Regions from separate parts of the Homo sapiens genome. Here region 2 is linked to region 1. The links come from fine-mapping of genetic effects on gene expression. Tissue or cell type: nasal epithelium. Region 1 holds a variant in brackets; the other region holds the start of a gene. All regions are shown on one strand. Distances are between the middles of the regions.

Region 1 (2,682 bases):
ATCAGTACCTTCTACGTCCCTGTGGGATCTGTGCTCCTCAGAAGTGCTCCTGTCTTTCTTGTTCCCTTCTCTCAAAGCAGAGCATGCCCCAGTCAAAGGTTTGCCTCTGATATCTTCCTTGTCCCCCTCGTTTTTGTCATTCCTCGCCATCCTGGCCCAGGAGCATACAGAACCTTTGAGCAATGCATTCACACCCACCCAGAAGTCAAGCATAATGAGGAGAGAAGATCTAGCTCTCTCAGGCACAAACACCCAGATATTTTGTGATAGAAGGAAAATGTGCCAAAATGAAAAGGGGCAAAAACACAGAGGGGTGTTAGACCTTATCACCCGTGCAGAAATCTCTTCCCTTATCAAGATTTAATTTCAAGGGAAACTGGGGTCACTCTATGCAAGTTTTATCCACTGAGTAGGAGAAACTGGAACAAAAGTCCTACCCAAGAGGGCCTCAGAATCCTGATGGAATTTCAGAACCACCCAAAAAAGCAGACAAGGGACTTATCTCTTGCCAGCATATCTCCTTCAACTCACTTTTGGGTTCAAGTAGGGTTGAAGAAGGAGTCTTATTTAGCTCTGGAAATATACTGTCAGATCTAGGCTGAGGTTTTCTTGGGAGGTGGGAAGTATAGGGGGTGGTAACAGTAGGATTTCTAAAGGCAAAATGCAGAACCAGAGCTATCCAAGGAATCTGGAGGCTGCAAGCAGTTTCGCCCACATCAGCCAGCATTAAAGATTGGCAATGTGGTGGGTGGGGGAGAGCTGGGAGAGAGGAGGAGGAGAGCTCCAGGCCCGTGCTGGACAGTCTAGATGGAAGCCAGACTCCCCATTGTTCTCCACCTTCCTCCCGTCTCTGCTGTCATGCTTAAGAGTTTTCCCTGGGCCCTTCACAGAGAAGACTCCAAGCAGCCAGCATCGCCCCTCTCCCCCTCCCTGTCTCTCCCTCCCTGCCACCTTCATTTTGCTCTTGCTTTCAGAGTCATGCTGGCAGCAATGTGCGAGTCTAGCCAGAGCACA[G/T]GAGTCAGTAAACCCTGAAGGAACAAAGGCTCCGGCTCTTTGCCTAATCCATGTCTGGCTCCGTGCAGAAAGCTACACAACAATGAAGTCGTCCTGCATTGATCTGCCCGCTCCTGAGCTTTCCCGCGGCATCCAACCCTCCCTTGCTGCCTCACCATTGTATCTGAGATGCTTGATCCTTTGCTCATGCCTGGTCTTGACCTGAGGGAACTGGGACGAGCCAGGGGATGTGTCACAGCCCAGTGCTGTGCTGCGGTCACACCTGTGGCTGGGGAGGTGGAGGTGAGGATGTGGCTGCTGGGAGCTTGGCTGCAGAAAGGGATTCCCGCACAAAAGAAGAGACAGAGGTGGCTAGAGGTCAGATTCTTGACTTCCAAATTGAGCCTGATTTGTGTTTGGTCTTTTTAGGGTGAGCATTGCATGGCTGAGCTTGGACATATCAGGAGGTCTTTGAGGTGCGTTGAAGAAAGGTTAAGTGACAGTGGGTAGTCAGACAAGGCCCTTTCTTCTACTACCTTCCTGTCTGAAGCTGCTCACCCTTGCCCAGACCTGGGCAGCCTAACCTGATATCCTAAGGATCAGGTTGGTCTCATCCTTTCTTCTACCACCTTCCTATCTGAAGCTTCTCACCCTTGCCCAGACCTGGGCAGCCTAACTGCTATCCTAAGGATCAGGTTGGTCTCATCCAACTGTATGATGAGTCCTCCCCAATATCAAAAAGGCCATCATTGCTTGGGAATCTCACCAACTGTAAGACATGTGATTAATCTCAGATCTAAGCCCAACCATGCTTTCATACACCCCCAAGTCACTAAATGCTACAATGAGAGGAAAGAACGTTGCAGATGTTCTTTTCCAGTCTTTAAAATCACCCTGTCCCAAAAGTTCCAGAAGGAAGTCAGGGATGGTGCTCATCCCTGAAGACCCCTGAAAGACTTCTCTGTCTTAGGAGTGGAGTGGGGTTGGAGGGGGGAGCACCTAGGTGGTGTTTCACAATCATAGCCTTCCAGGAGCAGAAGATGTGCTACTTTAGGGGGCTGCAGAGTGGCCAAAAGCATTTTGAGGTGTCAGGCAGTCCCCCTGTCAGTCCTGGTTCTGCCAGTTTCAAGCTGTGGAAACCTGAGCTAGTTATTCAATCTTTCTGAGCTTCAGCTTCCTTGTGGGTAAAATCTGACTGGTTCTGAGTAAGTGCTTCATAAGTTACATAGAATTATTACTATTAATGCCCCACAGTAAACCCATTCTTGGGAGGTTGGCAACCAGTTCCAGGACCTCATCATGTAATGCTAGTAAAAAAGTCCAGCCTCTCCAGGGCATGTCCCTGGAATGTGTTAGATCGAATTTCACCTTGTTTCTACAAGATCTTATTGGTACAGTTGAGTTTCTCATTCTCTGAGCTTCAGAACCAGCACCTGTCAACCAAGTCTCTAGAATGAAGATCCAGGGAGCGCCTGGCAAGCACCCTGGGTTCGTGAACTGAGTCAGCTGTCAATCTGTGCAGCAAAATCCCGCAGGATCAAAATGTAAGCTTAAGGTCTGACAAAGCTACTGTGAAATCCTGTTGGTGACATTCGAATGCAGGAGGTCAGGGAGCTGCAGGACTGGCTGGTTCCCTGAGCCACCCTAAGCTGAGGCCAGTCCAAACTGGCATCTTTCTGGGCTGAGTTC
Region 2 (2,682 bases), 280 kb after region 1:
TACTTTATTCCACTTGAGCGTGGCCAAACTGTTGCTATTTAGTGGGGAGCAAAAAAAAACAATTTGCACCATCGAAACGAGCCAGCAACTGGTTGGGAGGCGGGCGGTAGCTGGGCCCCGCGTGCCCTCGGCGGCCGGGGTCCTCTCCGGGGAGAGGCACACACACGCATAGCCGGATCGCGCCTCGCCAGGGCCGGAGTCACCTGGAATGCGCAGCCGGAGAGCATCTCCCGAGCCAGAGCGAGCCTGACGCGCGCCCAGCGGGCGGCGGGCAGCGGCGAGCTGGGGCGGGCGGAGGGCCGGCTCCCGGCCGCGGGTGGGCAGGAGGGAGACGCAGAGCGCGGGGGAGGCAGGCTGGGGAGCGGCCGCCTGACTTACATGGAAGTGATATTCCTTGAGATGTCCGTGATGTTGATACTGGCGTTCCCATTGCTGTTCCCTGAATCCTGCCCTTCCAGGAGGGGGAAGAGGTTCCCATCGTCCGGCCGCCGGCAATTGATCTCAGTCTTGCTGCAGACACAATTTGCAGGGCAAGCCAGCACGGAGCCCACATAGTCCAGCCAGACGCTTCCCAGCAAGAAAATCCGCCAGAAACTACACTTGGCTGGGCAAAGAGAGACATCCATCTCCGATCGCTGCTTCTAAAAAAGAGGAGGAGGAGAGGAGAGGGGGGTGGGGTGGGGGGAGTGGGGAGAGCAGGGGGGGAAGGAAACAAAGACGGCGAGGGAGGGGGGAAGGGGGAGGGGGGGCCTCTGCCTTTGAAACGCCGAGCGATCAGATGCAAAATCCTTCAGCGTCTGAAACCATCGCGGACGCCGCCGCCGCCGCCGCCGCCGCCGGGTGGGAGCCGCGAGGAGCGCCTAGTGGCGCGGTCTGCCGGGCATGGTGGCCGGCTCGGCGATCGCTGACTCGCCGGGTCCGGGGGCTCTGGAAGCGAGGCGCGCTCTCCGACTCCGAGACTTTGCAGGGTTGCAACAGACGGTGGGGAGGCAAAAAAAAAAAAGGAAAAGGAAAAAATGGTGCTAAAGTCACCAAGTCCCACCTACTGGGCAGAATTAAAACGGACACACCACGCACCTGCAAAACACACACACTCACTCTCACACATACACACACCCGGAGCCCGAGGAAAGGAAGAGAAGGAAGATGCAGTAGGAGCTGCAGCAGCCGCCGCGAATGGCTCGCCGCGCGGCTGCAGAAATGTACAAGTGCTCCGAGCCTTACGAAACGCACGGGTTATCGGAGCGTCTTCCTCGGCTCCCTCCCTCCCTTCCTCCCTCCCTCCTCCCCTCCCTCGTCGCGGCCTCCTCCCCCCGCCCCCCGCCCGGGCTGGGAGCGGCAGGAGAGCGGAATCTCCCCCTCCCTCCCCTCCCCACACCCGTCTCTCTCCCCGCCTGTCCTCTCCCTCCTCCCCACCCACCCACCCACCCACTCGCCGGCTCGCGGCTGTAGCCGGCACCGCCACCCGCAGCCTCGCGGCAGCCCGCCCGCTCCACGCCTCGCAGCGCGGCGCCCGCTAGCCGCAGCCCGGGGGAAACCGAGACCGAAGGGAAAAAGTTGCATTTGAGATTGCGAGGGTCGGGGCTGGGGAGGGAGAGTTGGCGAGCTGGCTGCACGACACGGAAAGGCGCTCTCCTTTCCACTTTTTGGCCCTCGCGCTACCCGGTTTTGCTGCAATCCGGACCGCGGTAGGAAGTGAAATGAACGTGGCGGAGGTGATTGGGGAGTGCTCCCAAGCCTTGGGTGGGGGGCGCTCCCAAGCCTGGGTGGGTGGGGGGCGCAGGCTCACGGACGGCGACGGGGGGTGCCGGAGCGCACAGACACCCCAGAGAAGCACCCAGAGCCGGGGACCGGGACCGCAGACGCGCAGTCCTTGGTCTGAATGACACTCATTTCCGTAATCTAGAGTCTGGGGCTCTGGTCTTGGCTGGGAGGGGACTGCGGGACATGGCACGCTAGGTGCCCCCCGTGCCCGCTGCGCTTTCTTGGAGGTGGGTTTTGCATTCGGCCTTGAGCAGGCATGGATCGGGGAAGGAAGAAACAGGGGTCGAAAGGGCTGCGCTGGAGAGCCGAGGTGGCCCCGGGCGAGCTGTGCGTGCAAGAGAAATGGCCGGGGGAAATTGAGATGCAAGGGGCATATTTTGGCAAGCGCCACGCCAGCACCGTCAGAGGCCGGCTTCTCGGGCTCAGCTCTCGGGTGAGCTGAGCTGGCTGCCGGGTGAGGGGGCGGGCGGGCTGCTTTCTCCGGATTCGGGGGCGCAGAACCTCCTCCTTCCCTCCCACACAAGCACCCCTTCCTGGTAGGGACGCAAAGCAGGTGCAGCTTTCGACGAGAGCTCAGATCTCATCCGGGAAAGAAGTGTGTGTGGGGGGGGCCCCGCTTTTGCGCTGGTAGGGATTTTTTTCTTAATAAAACATAAAGATGCCAAGTGTGAGCTGTTTGCTGAAAAAAAAAAAAACGAGCATTCGCTGTGGGAAAGGAGAAGAAAGGGTTAGGGGAGTCCGAGCAGGCAGACACACTACAGCATTCACACGCAGAAGAAAGCAGGGTTCTCCTTCCCGAGCTTGGAGGAGGGCAGGCGAGGAAGCAAAATACATTGAATTCAATTCAACTGCATCCAGTATCTGAAAGGAGTCTCCCCCGCCCCCCTGTGGATTCCGATGCAGGTCATGCAACTTGCA

What was found. PIP is the estimated chance that this variant, and not a neighbour inherited with it, causes the effect.
Region 2: NTRK3 starts here. The variant in region 1 is fine-mapped to the expression of NTRK3 in nasal epithelium (TOPMed, PIP 0.98).

The regions. Positions count from the first base shown.
Region 1 is chr15:87,972,906-87,975,587 of GRCh38, forward strand. The region is part of intron 14 of NTRK3 (neurotrophic receptor tyrosine kinase 3); the gene reads right to left. Among named protein-coding and RNA genes, the nearest start is that of MIR11181, 28 kb to the left of the region's middle. The variant G/T (reference allele first, on the strand shown) is at 1,015.
Region 2 is chr15:88,255,528-88,258,209 of GRCh38, forward strand. It overlaps NTRK3 (neurotrophic receptor tyrosine kinase 3), which reads right to left and starts at 1,212. Exons shown (of 20, transcript NM_001012338.3): 1 at 1,117-1,212; 2 at 757-959; 3 at 379-641. The coding sequence starts at 626. The region is part of intron 1 of NTRK3-AS1 (NTRK3 antisense RNA 1); the gene reads left to right. RefSeq lists an enhancer at 1-430.